Linked DNA regions of Homo sapiens. The protein of the gene in region 2 interacts with the protein of the main gene of each other region in a biochemical or structural test. Each region holds a gene or a part of one and is shown on either strand. Other genes may lie near its edges. The genes, in order: RBM5 and DHX15.

Region 1 (6,890 bases), on a different chromosome or scaffold from region 2:
AACGGAGTTTTGCTCTGGTTGCCCAGGCTAGAGTGCAATGGCGCGACCTCCGGCTCACTGCAAACTCCGCCTCCTGGGTTCAAGCAATTCTCCTGCCTCAGCCTCCCGAGCAGCTGGGATTACAGGCCAACCACACCCAGCTAATTTTGTATTTTTAGTAGAGACGGGTTTCTCCATGTTGGTCAGGGTGGTCTTGAACTCCCAACGCCAGGTGATCCGCCTGCCTCGGCCTCCCAAAGTGCTGGGATTACAGGCGTGAGCCACCACGCCCGGCTAAAACATGTTAAACTCTTGAATTTAAAAATCCGAACATGTCAAGACCAGCCTGGGCAACAGAGTGAGGCCCCATCTCTGTAAAAAATTAAAAAATTAGCCTGCATGGTGGTATGTGCTTGTAGTCCCAGCTACTTGGAACACTAAAGTGGGAGAATCGCGTGAGCCCGGGAGGTCGAGGCTGCAGGCTCCCGAGTAGCTGGGATTACAGGTGCACACCACCACGTCTGGCTAATTTTTTTGTATTTTTGGTAGAGACAGGGTTTCACCATGTTGGCCAGACTGGTCTCAAACTCCTGACCTCAGGCAATCCACCTGCCTCGGCCTCCCAAAGTGTTGGGATTACAGGTGTGAGCCACCACGCCTGGCCAACCCTGCCTCAAAATCAATCAATCAATCAATCAGAACGTGGTGATGGGGGCAAGAAATAAACTGATTTCATCACCAGGCTTGACTGGCTCAGACATGCTTGACCCACCTACCCACCCAAGAATAAAGAGACACAGGACACCCATTTCTCAAGGTATTTCTTTTGTAAAGGAGCCAGATTTGGCAACTAGACTGAAAATCTTCCAAAATTCTGTACAAATGTGTAATATACAAATATACACAAGGCTTTTGCCAAGAAAAGACATCACAACAAATGACAGAGGTGGCTTTGGTGTCACATACCACCTACAGCATCTCAAACCCCTAGGAATGTGAGGGGCTGATGGACCACAACATAGGCTACACATGTAAACACGCTACATTACACTATGTACACTGGAGTATAAACAATCCACTGTCCTCTCCGGTCTGTTCACAAGCCCTCTGGCGGGAAGGAAGGCCATTCACCAGGCAACCCACATAAGGGGAACTTCTTTAAGGTGGGAGGGAGAACCCTGCAGAATGAAGTGGTTCACCCTAAGATCTATTAACAGCACAAGGCATGCCCTTAAAGAGACAGGCGGTAACAGCGAATTCGGGAGATGGACCACTTCTTGTGCTCCTTGTCATCTCTCTCTCTCTCTCTCTCTCACTCCATCTCAGTGAACCGGGCAAACATGGCTTTCCGGACAGCATCTTTGTAGGAATCGGCGCCCGACAAACCATATGCGCTGCCTTTGGCTCCTAGGCCAGCTCCCTTTAGCCGAACTTGAGCCTGGGAAAGCACAGAGACTGTCAGCTGGGAGGTAGGGTATGGGCTGCTCCACCTCTCACCATGCCCACTCCTTACCCAGCAGGACCACCCACCAGGAGACAGAAGAGAGAAAACTGTATATGAAGACAAGGATTTCTCCAGAAGAGACCAGGAGCAAGTATAAGGACTGGAGGAATAAAATGGGCTACGGAACACAGGCAGATGAAGCAAATCACCCACCCCTCAATGCCTGCTCAGCAAGCATCCACGCCTAGGAAAGGGCCCCAAAGTATTCCTCTGAAGGTCTGGGAAAGGTATGGTAATTACAGGCACACATTATACAGGATAGCTCAATGTCAGCAGAACTCACATAAACAGGATGAACATGGTCTACAAGAGTCTGACCTAAGCTGTGCTCCCAGGACAGAGCAGGGGCAATTACGGGTGGAGCTCCTGCCTAGAAGGCCAGTGGGTAGGGGCCTCCGATCCTGGGATATGATGCCTCAATGTGGGCTCTGATCAATTTAAAGATTTCTTATCATGGGTGAAAACCCTACTAAATTTTTTTTTTTTTTGAGACAGAGTCGCTGTTGCCCAGGCTGGAGTGCAGTGGCGTGATCTCGGCTCACTGCAACCTCCTCCTGCCAGGTTCTAGCAATTCTCCTGCCTCAGCTTCCTGACTAGCTGGGATTACAGGCACACGCTGCCACGTCCAGTTAATATTTTGTATTTTAGTAGAGACGGGGTTTCACCGTGTTGCCCAGGCTGGTCTCAAACTTCTGGGCTCAGGCAATCCACCCTCCTCGGCCTCCCAAAGTGCTGGGATTACAGGTGTGAGCTCATGCCTGTAATCTGCCCCTTCATGCTAAGGTAAAGCTGCTCCTGGCTCCCAGGCTCTATGAGTGCTCTGATCTCATCTCTGGAACCGGCCTGTAAGCCTGGCAAACATCAAGACCTGACCCCACTGCTTACCTCAATGGGAGCCGTAATGCCTTGACACTTTCGTCCCAAGCCAGAGCCTTCCCGCCAGCCCATGGCCTGCAGCATCTTGTTGCCAATGTTACTGTGGTCAATGCCATCTTTGGTGGGTTGCTCGTAATTCCTGCCAGTGGCAAACACACAGTTACTTAAAACAGCCAGGGCCCCAGCTTACGAACTGGAAAATGTGCACATCACATACACAGTGCCGGCATCAAACTGCTTCTTGCGCTTGGGCTCTGGAGGTTCTGGAATGCCGTACTTCTCCCGTCTTTCTGCAGCTCGGTCTCGGTATTTCATCTACATGGGAGAAAAAACACTGCTGGAAATGTTCACAGACTTCAACCTGTAACCGTCTAATGCACCTATTCAAAACTATCCCCTCAAGTATTTTTAAATCTGAAGAATGCTTTTTTTAGACTGCTCTGAAATACCAAATTCCCTTGTTCCCATCATCATACCTAGTCATATCTGAAATGTTAAATTTGTAAATATGAATTGTGTGGAACCAGGGGCAGAACTATGTCTCCAACAAGCAGTTTTATTTAATTAGCCACCCTCTGTCAAGCTACTCAACCAGCCCACTGGGCAGTGGGTACAGCTTGCGAAGAGGAAGGCAGAGTTGCCCGTTCTCCTCAGCATTTGGACAGGCATACCTCCAACATTTGGAAAGGCATACCTCCAACATCAAGGAGGCTTCCAGAGACCTGTTCAGCAGTCGCTGGGGAGGTGGAACCATAGATAGTAGGGCAGGAAGGGTGTGGGGAGAAGAAAAGCAAAAGCCTTAACTACAAACACTTCAGAAATATCTCAGGTGGGAGATTTCAAACCCACTTGCTCATTTCTAAACCACAGGCCTCTATTTGCATTTAAATCCCTGCCCACCTGGCCGCCAACCTGCCCCAACCACCAGCACTAACTGCTTGCCCATTATTGTGTCACAGGCTTCTCTCTTGCCTTTGTTCCCAGATCTGCTTGCCATGCCCTGCCCACCCTTCCTTTCATATCACCTGCAATAACCTCACGTCCTGCTGTCCCTTGGGATTAATTTGAAGCGCACTTCTTTGCCCATGAAGGCTTCCCTGGCCAGGCCAAACTAGACCACTCTCTCCATAACAAAATCCAGCGTATTTAAGCAGCAAGCTCTGGCATTGCTGTGAGAGAGTCTCGGCAGTGTGCTTCTGCCTTGTGCACCCTTATGATGAAGGGACAATGTGAGGCTCACAAGGCACACAGAGGCTGGGTCTAGGCTACATGAACTACAATGGTCAGATGACAAGGGTATGACAAATCCTCCTACCCTGCCCCTGGGATCTGGAACTAAATGCTACAAATAAAAGCTAAAGGCAATTATCCCAATATCCTCTTCCTTGTGGCACAGTTTCCCATTCACCTCTCTCTCCCTTAGCTCCAAGGCTTCCAGCTCCTGCTCGCTCAGCCTGGATCGTCGATAGATGTCCATGTTTTGCTACACAAAAGATTTGAAAGACACAGTAAGGACTCAGACCATCTTAATTTGAAATGTCCTAACATTAGTAACATCTACTGTACTTTAAGAGCCAAAGCCCAAACAATACACAATCACATAAAAACTATAGTTTGATGTGTGTGGAGCTGCCAGACTCCGTCCACTGTCATCGGGAACAGCTTTCTGTAAGGCCATCATTAGATGGCAGGTATTTTTGGAACCGTCAGGACTGTTAGGGCACTCAAATTGTCTCACTGCCTCCCCTCGCCCCCTCAGATCAGCTCAGAAGCATGGCCACCTTGTGAAGGTCTGAGAGTTGCTGGTGCCTGACTAGGGCATCTTTGTTCGGGAACTGGCGCCGGCAGAGCAGACAGGCCATCTTCTTCCAGTCAGCTAGCTTCTCTTCCTCACTCTCAAGTCTCTCCACCAGCTCCTCCTCATTGTCACTGTCACCACTGTAAGCAGCAACCAGACCCCTCTGGAGACAAAAGGAGGACAGGTCACTGGAAATGTACAATAGGAAGATGGCGGTGGCTATGTACCTGGATAAAGTAATGCCTCATCCGAAATGTTAACAAATCCCCATTACTGCATGTCACACTTTAGTAATGAATCACATTTTGTCAACTGCGTGGAGCAGTCAGGTCCTTGAGTGCTAGGCCTGACAGCCTCCTGGTACCAACCTTCTTGGAGCCTAAGAAATGGATTCCTGGGTGACTACCTTTTTCTATTTCTTTGGAGAAGGAGTCTCGCTCTGTTGCCCAGGCTGGAGTGCAGTGGCGTAATCTCAGCTCACTGCAACCTCCACCTCCCAGGTTCAAGTGATTCAAGTGTCTCAGCCTCCCAAGTAGCTGGGATTACAGGCGCTTGTCACCACCCCTGGCTAATCTTTTGCATTTTTAGTAGAGATGGGGTTTCACCACATTGGTCAGGCTGATCTCGAACTCCTGACCTCAAATGATCCGCCTGCCTTGGCCTCCCAAAGTGCTGGGATTACAGGTGTGAGCCACTGTGCCAAGACTGTTTTTGTTTTTTTTTTTTTTAAATGAGACAGGGTCTTGCTCACTGCCCAGGCTGGAGTGCAATGGTATGATCCCCAAAAAGTGCAGTGGCTCACTGCAGCCTTGATCTCCTGGGCTCAAGCAATTCTCTTACCTTAGCATCCCAAGTAGCTAGGAGTACAGATGCAAGCCACCACACCCAACTAATTTGTTTCTAATTTTCAGTAGAGACGAAGTCTTGCAATGTTGCCTAGACTGAGTGACTATTTTCAAACCACTGACCACAAATAAAAATCCCAAATACAACATATCAGAATAATGGCCCACCCAGACCAGTATCTATCTAGTAAAACAAGCTTTTTCTTGTCTTAATTTTCTCTTTCCAGACCATTAAAACTCTCCACTCACAGATGCAATGAAACTTAATTAACTGAGCTTAGGAATTGAAGCTTCTTTCATCACTCCATCTCATCTGCTCTCACAGAAAACAAAGCCCCGACATGGAATCTATGTGCAGAAACTGCTCCAATACCCATCAACAGTGATCACATTCAGTTTTAAGTAGGAATCACATTAGCCAAGATGCAGTTGAGCCTTAAAGTGAGACACAAACCACAGATAGGGTCTTTAAAACACTGGTGGTACTCCCTTACTTTGAGGGGATTCTCCTCATCTCCATTTCGCACCAATTCTGGGATGAGCTGCTGCCTTTCAGCTAAGGCTCCCTGGGAAACAGAGGACAAGCCATGAGACTCAAGTTTTAGGTAAGTTCCCATCATGACATACTGGCCATTCCTGCTATTACCTTCTTCTCAAAGAGAGCAAAGCCAGCGTCTGCTGCAGCAGATTCTCTCCTTTCTTCTTCCCTCAAGGAATTGACAGGCTGAAAGCTATTTTTAAAGTTTTCTTTCTGCTTATTCAAACTCTTAGCCCAGCGTTCCATGTCTTTGGCAATCTAATGTCAAACAACAAACACCAACAAAAAAATATTTAATCCCCTGTGCCATGAGAATGAGCCATTAAGGATCTTATCTCAACTATATGCCCTGTAACAAACCCCTTTTACTCTTACTTCCACCTACAAATATTTCCATTAGATGTTATCACATATAACCAAAGTCATTCATAAATACTGCTTGAAAAGCTTTGAGATTTCCAGGGCTTTTTTCCCTAAGTACACAGGCTGACAGTCAAGATATGGTAACAATAACAAATTGCAAAATGCTCTAAGAACTTAGTATGAATAAAATGTGAAGCCCAATTTTTAAGAATCCAAATAATACTGACATAAATGCTACAACCCCAAAACTAAGAGTTCAGCCCAATACCTCAATGAAAGAAATATGGGTCATGTTCTAACCTGCTGGGCTGTTTTGCTCTTGGGTTTCTCCTTCTTCTCTTTCCCCTCTTTTGCAGGAGGCAGGCCCGACTGCTGGTGGGAGCTAGACTCTGCAGCTGGCACGTAGGTCTCTTTTTCCCCATCCCAGTAAAGGTACTGCTGGGTCAAGGAATTATAGTAGTACTAGAAAACAACAAACAAAAAACAATTAATGCAGACTTTCTGCTATGTCAGTCGATTACATATTTTGTCAAAAAAAAGATAAAGTATGTTGTGGACTAGTGATATTTCCTGCCCAGAAAAGACCCTGGGCACACCTTGGTATAAGTAAAGGTGATGAACCACCTAGCAAAGAGGTGTGACACTGCTAGAGTAAAAATAGAATATGATTTCTTTAAAAAGTTTAGTTCCCAGCCGGGAGCAGTGGCTCATGCCCGTAATCCTAGCACTTTGGGAGGTGGTGGTGGGCAGATCACCCAAGGTCAGGAGTTCAAGACCAGCCTGGCCAACATGGTGATAACTCATCTCTACTAAAAATACAAAAATTAGCTGGGCATGATGGCACACCTGTAATCCCAGCTACTCAGGAGGCTGAGGCAAGAGAACTGCTTGAACCTGGGAGATGGAGGAGGTGGCAGTGAGCCAAGATCATGCCACTGCACTCCAGTCTGGGCAACAGAGTAAGACTCCATCTCAAAAAAAATGATA
Region 2 (5,867 bases):
TATAAAGGTAGGAGGGGAAGAAGAGGGAAGTCCAGACTAATGAGTACAGTATTTAGTCTTCATATGAAAATAACTGATTAAAAAACATTTTATGGGCCACATAAAACACCTCAATTTTCATTCCAAAATGAATGTAGACAAGTTTTCAACTTGTCTACTGCCTGTCATAGAAAATGGAAGGTCAAATGTACATTTTAACACACTATACAAATTATTTTGTATACTGCATAAAACTTCCATCACTAAGAATTTTGTTAAACTGAGATCTAAAATATGCTTTCCTCTTACCTAATACTAATAAACGTGTTTGAGAAGCTAGAAGTATAATAAAAACATCTGACAAAAATGTAGTTAATAAATTATGAGCCTTATGAAAGGAACTCTAAGAAAGACAAGTAGAGAGCTCTCCTTTCATTATTCTCTCTTTTGGGGTCCAGTTTCAAATGATCACTACACACATTTTACCCCTTTTAGATCGATCACATCCTGATTAACCTAACAAAGCGCTAAGCCATGCTCTTAAAAATACTGCTTTAACAGCTACTTTTCCTAAGGAGTACTCCTGGTAGAAAGATACTAAATATGTAGTAACAGTATAATTATAATAATAAAAAAGCTCCACACTTGAAAAACAACTATACTTAGAGACTAGAACAAAGATACCAAAGGGCTTTGGCCAAAATTAGTATAAATAGACTTTATTGAAGTCAGTGCCTCTGTACTGAGACAGAAGATTGTGTCTACATAAGCACAAGTTGTAACATTTCACAACTTCTAAAAGGAATGTCAACAATTACAACGATCATGCATACCATGGTCGATAATCACATTTTAGAAGCATTTTCAACCATTTCTAAAGAAATGCTTATAACATTGTTATATATAGAACTACTTTCAATAAACTGCAAAACATTGATCGACTTTTCCAGTATGAGCTACAGTGTCAACACAAAAGGGAGGCATAAATGTTTAATTTATGAAATCAGAATGGAATATTTACTGTAAAGAAAAATTAAAAAGCTTTCAAATAAAGGCCATTATCGAACCAACGTGAAGAGCACAACTCGAACTTTTGAGTTCATTCATCTTTTAAAGCTGTCCTCTCAATAACTTCAGTTCTAAGCACTGAATTCAGTACTGTGAATATTCCTTGGATTGAAGTTTGGCAATGATGCGGTCCAACTGTCTCTTTGCTTCACACTGTGGGAAATTGCTCATGTCATAATATTGAGGGGCAATTTTCACCAACCTGTTTAGAAGTGGGCAGAAAAATTTCCAAATTAACATTTAATTGAAGTACTGGAGTTGTTAATAGGATAGGCATTATTCATTAATATACTGATGAACCAAGGCAAATCTATGAATTCAAGTCTCAGAAAAATACAAATAACTAATCCTTACAAATAGCACTTTTAGAAATGTGTTAAGTATTTTATTTAGTAAGATGTGAATTTTCTGATGTTGGACTTACCATAAACTTAATAACAAACCCCTCAAGATACATTAATGTAAAGATAACAGATAAAGTCACTGATTTCTTTACTCTGGCACACTATTAATTTGCCACTCCAAGGATATAGTAATATATAACAGGTTCTGTGTAGGAAACATCGTGGTATTCAAATGATTGGATCTTTTCATTTTCAATGTTTTAATAACTGTAACTCTATACCCCCAAAATACACTTGACTGAAATCTTTTATAAAGTTTAGCTATATAATTTTTTTCTCAACAAAGCGTTTAAGATAAAATGGTAATGTCCTACACAATTTAAGTGTCAAAAGTCCCAAATCCGTATAAGAAAGCAGCTGCACAATATAAAGCGGTGACAGCACCTAGAATATGTGCCTTCAGTCCCACTACTCTTGGCTGACATTTCCTGTCATAGGTTATAGAATAGATTCTGGCATAAATAAAACAAAAAACCATGAAGGTGAGGGTTATTTTGCTTAAAATAAAACAATCCGTTCTTACTCTACATTTTGTAGAAGCTAGTATGTTAAAACACAAAGAGCTATCATTTTTATGCCTGCACAGTTCCTAAAAACCAATATATAAATAATAAATAGTTGAGGGCTAATTGTAATGGGACAAAAAAAATGTTAAAAAACAAAACAAAACAAAAAAAAACAGATTTCTGCAAGCAAGAAACAGTACTGACTTGAGAATCACAACAGCAAGAGAATGGCTCCAAAGAAACTCTAAAAATTAAAAAAATTAAAAAAAAACCCTTTTTTAAAAGTATGTCTGAGAGACAGGGTCTCACTGTCACCCAGGCTGGAGTACAGTGGCATGATCATAGCTCACTGCAACCTCAAACTCCTGGGCTCAAGCAATCCTCCTGCCCAGCTTCCCCAGTAGCTGGGACTATAGACGTGCAGCACCACCATGCCCAGCTAATTTTTGTACACACCTATATATCTTTTAGTAGAGATGGATTCTGGCTATATTGCACAGGCTGGTCTTGAACCCCTGGCTTCAAGTGATCCTCCCATCCTGGCCTCCCAGAGTCCTGGGATTACAGGTGTGAGCCACCATGCCCAGCCCCTGAAGAAACTTTTCATGCTATTCAAATGTAACTTCACATTTGGCTTCAAATCCTGCCCATAAATATCAACAATCCCACTGTCCACTTAACAAAGGAAGGGTGTGAAAGATTAATCACACCATCCAGTCAATTCCCTCATACCTACACACTGAAATATAAATTCTCAATGAGTGAATGCAAGGCCATGACTCTAGCAACAGTCAGGTTCCATTTTGAGCAAAGTACTAACAAAAAACTGTTAGAACAAAAGGTGTACTTACCATTCTGGCTTGATATCTGTACATGTCCGGATGTAATTCTTTGTTGTTAGAACAAACTCATTATAAAGCACCCATTCAGGTTTGTGGTCAAGAACAGTAGAGGGATGCAACTGAACCACCTGGTTATCTTTCACAGTTAAGTAATGCCCTGTTCGTTCTAAATGTGCCACCTGAAACCAAAACCCAGTATATTATTAATACAATGCTTCTGACTTGCTAGTTGTAAAGCTACCTACATAATTAGGAAGAGGCAGGCCTCCCTTTTACTTTTCATTCTATGGCTATACTTATTTATCACTGTCTGATAAAAGCAGAGATAAGCAAACTGCTGCCTGTGGGCCAAATCCAACTCATAGCCTCTATTTGTAAGGTCTGTGAATCCAAAATGGTTTATTTATCTTTAATTAGAAAGAAAAAATATCATACAAAAAACATTCCGTGAAGCATGAGTAGCATGTAAAATTCAAACTTCAGTATCCATAAGGAAAGTTTTATTAGAACACAGGCATGCCCATTTGTCTATACCTATTATGCTCCAAGAGCAGGCAGTGTTAGGTAGTTTTGACAAGGACTTCATGGGTCCACAGAGCCCAACATTTACTATCTGATCTTTCCTGCCTGAGACCATCTAGAGCAGGCTCTTCAGCACTGGGCGCCAACTATGAGCAGACAATTACCAGAACATTCATGTCTAAGGTAGAAAACTAAAGCCAGGTGCAGTAATCCCAGCACTTTGGGAGGCTGAGACAGGCAGATCACCTGAGGTCAGGAGTTCGAGACCAGCCTGGCCAACACGGTGAAACCTCATCTCTACTAAAAGTACAAAAATTAGACAAGCGTGGTGGCGGGTGTCTGTATCCCAGCTACTCAGGAGGCTGAGGCAGGAGAATTGCCTGAACCCAGGAGGCGGAGGTTGCAGTGAGCTGAGATCAAGTCACTGCACTCCAGCCTGGGCGACAGACCGAGAGGCTCCATTTCAAAAAAGAAAATAAAGAAATAGAATAAAAAATAAGGTAGAAAACTAAAGAGGGCAAAGAGGAAAAGAAAAAGGTAACCTACAAAGACAGGAAAATAAAAATGGGAAAAAAAAAAGAGCTTGCACGTGCTTCCCTCTCATTTCTTTTTTTGGTAACACCTTGACTGGTGATACTCATCAAAATGGACAGTTCTCCCTTTCCAATTCTAATATTCTGTGCTTAAAGAATGAGCATGAATAATAGAAAAGAAACTCAATTTCATTCGAAATATTTACTAAACACCTATTAGGTGTCAGGTACTATAATGCATGCTGTTTCTAATAAATTTTTTGTTTGTTTTTAAAAAGAGATAGGGTTTTCCTATGTTGCCTGGGCTGGCTTCAACGCTCCTTGCTCTCCACTCAACTTCTCTAGTAGCTAGGACTACAAGCACACTCTGTGGTGCCTAGCTGTTTGTAACAAATTTTAATCTACATAATTAAGAAGTATAATGCTTGAATATAGTTTCATCAATTTTTTTTTTTTTTTTGAGACGGAGTCTCGCTCTGTCGCCCAGGCTGGAGTGCAGTGGCGCTATCTCGGCTCACTGCAAGCTCTGCCTCCCAGGTTTACGCCGTTCTCCTGCCTCAGCCTCCCGAGTAGCTGGGACTACAGGCACCCGCCACCGCGCCCGGCTAATTTTTTGTATTTTTAGTAGAGACGGGGTTTCACCATGTTAGCCAGGATGGTCTCGATCTCTTGACCTCGTGATCCACCCGCCTCGGCCTCCCAAAGTGCTGGGATTACAGGCGTGAGCCACAGCGCCCGGCCAGTTTTTTTCTGAAATATAAAAAGCAAATTTAAGAACATGTCAACCCAGGCCTGGTGGCTCACGTCTGTAATCTCAGCACTTTGGGAGGTCGAGGTAGGAGGATCATTTGAAGCCAGAAGTTCAAGATCAGCCTGGGCAACGTGGCGAGGCCCTCTCTCTACACACACAAAAAGGCAAAAATTAGCTAGGCATAGTGGTGCGTGCCTGTAGTCCCAGGAACTCAGGAGTCTGAGGTGGGAGGATCACCAGAGCCCAGGGAGGTAAAAGCTGCAGTGAGCCGTGATTGCACCACTGCACTCCAGCCTGGGAGTGAGACATTGCCTCCCTCACCCCATCCCCTCCCCCTAAAAAAGAACAGAACATGTCAAAGAGAAGCCAGTACAACATATCAAATATTAAGAATATAGTTAAGAGTTTCAAGAAAGAATGCTCATACCTATCATTCACCAAACTCTAATAAGCCTATTATATAATAAGATGCCACAATAAACACTGTGTTACTTAGATTCAAATACAGACATCTCACCAATCTCCTTTGATTTTTGATTCTGAAACTGAGTGTCCTCAGGCTCATATTCTAGCTACTGAGCCCATCTGGCCTTAAGGGTAAGCCACATCGTGCTTAAAAGACACAGCCAAAGAGAGAATGAACAAACAGAAAAGAGATAGAAGAGACTTATCCCAAATCAGGTGATTTGTTTTCAATTTTATCACCACAAAATTTTCTTGCATTTTTCTCAAAGTTTCTCTTATTTTATAAACACCTTAAAATAACTGTTCACAGTATTTACTTGACAAGTTTTACTTCTGTTCTTATAGCCGTTAACACAGCATACTTAAACTAAATAAAACCTTTTAAATTATGTTTCATCTTTATTGCTACTCAACAGACGTTTTTGGCTTTTGCAGTACGCAAGGGTCTTGGTCATAATTACCAATGATCACTCTGTAGAGGACTGTAAATGAAATCCACGTATTTGAATATTTGAATTTGGAGGTGCTTAGTTTTTAGATAAAGACTAAAGCCAACTGTATGTACTTTTGGATCCGCTCAATTGCTTCCTTTTAGTACTCTGTTATGACAATGTATTTCCAATTAAGCCCTAGATTCAGAGAAACTTTAATGCACTGATCAATATTCACATTCCTGAAGAAACAGGTGCCTAATCACATCTGAAAGTAGCCAAAGTTTCCATTTTGTATAACAAAGGCTCTATTAATAAAATAATTCTAAAAACGATTCCTGTATAACTAGACTACCTTAGCCATTT

Evidence for each region.
Region 1: the proteins of DHX15 (region 2) and RBM5 form a complex in vitro, tested with the Homo sapiens proteins (one study listed by IntAct).

What each region holds. Positions count from the first base shown.
Region 1 is NC_000003.12:50,112,858-50,119,747, reverse strand, and holds the end of RBM5 (RNA-binding protein 5), read right to left. Parts: intron 6,366-6,890; coding exon 6,204-6,365; intron 5,799-6,203; coding exon 5,649-5,798; intron 5,569-5,648; coding exon 5,497-5,568; intron 4,321-5,496; coding exon 4,141-4,320; intron 3,843-4,140; coding exon 3,768-3,842; intron 3,727-3,767; exon of another isoform or gene 2,675-3,726; coding exon 2,577-2,674; exon of another isoform or gene 2,499-2,576; coding exon 2,369-2,498; exon of another isoform or gene 1,500-2,368; intron 1,418-1,499; coding exon 1,292-1,417; 3' UTR 727-1,291; downstream 1-726. UniProt on the Homo sapiens protein: Component of the spliceosome A complex. Binds to ssRNA containing the consensus sequence 5'-AGGUAA-3'. Regulates alternative splicing of a number of mRNAs.
Region 2 is NC_000004.12:24,526,793-24,532,659, forward strand, and holds the end of DHX15 (ATP-dependent RNA helicase DHX15), read right to left. Parts: intron 2,979-5,867; coding exon 2,809-2,978; intron 1,250-2,808; coding exon 1,132-1,249; 3' UTR 683-1,131; downstream 1-682.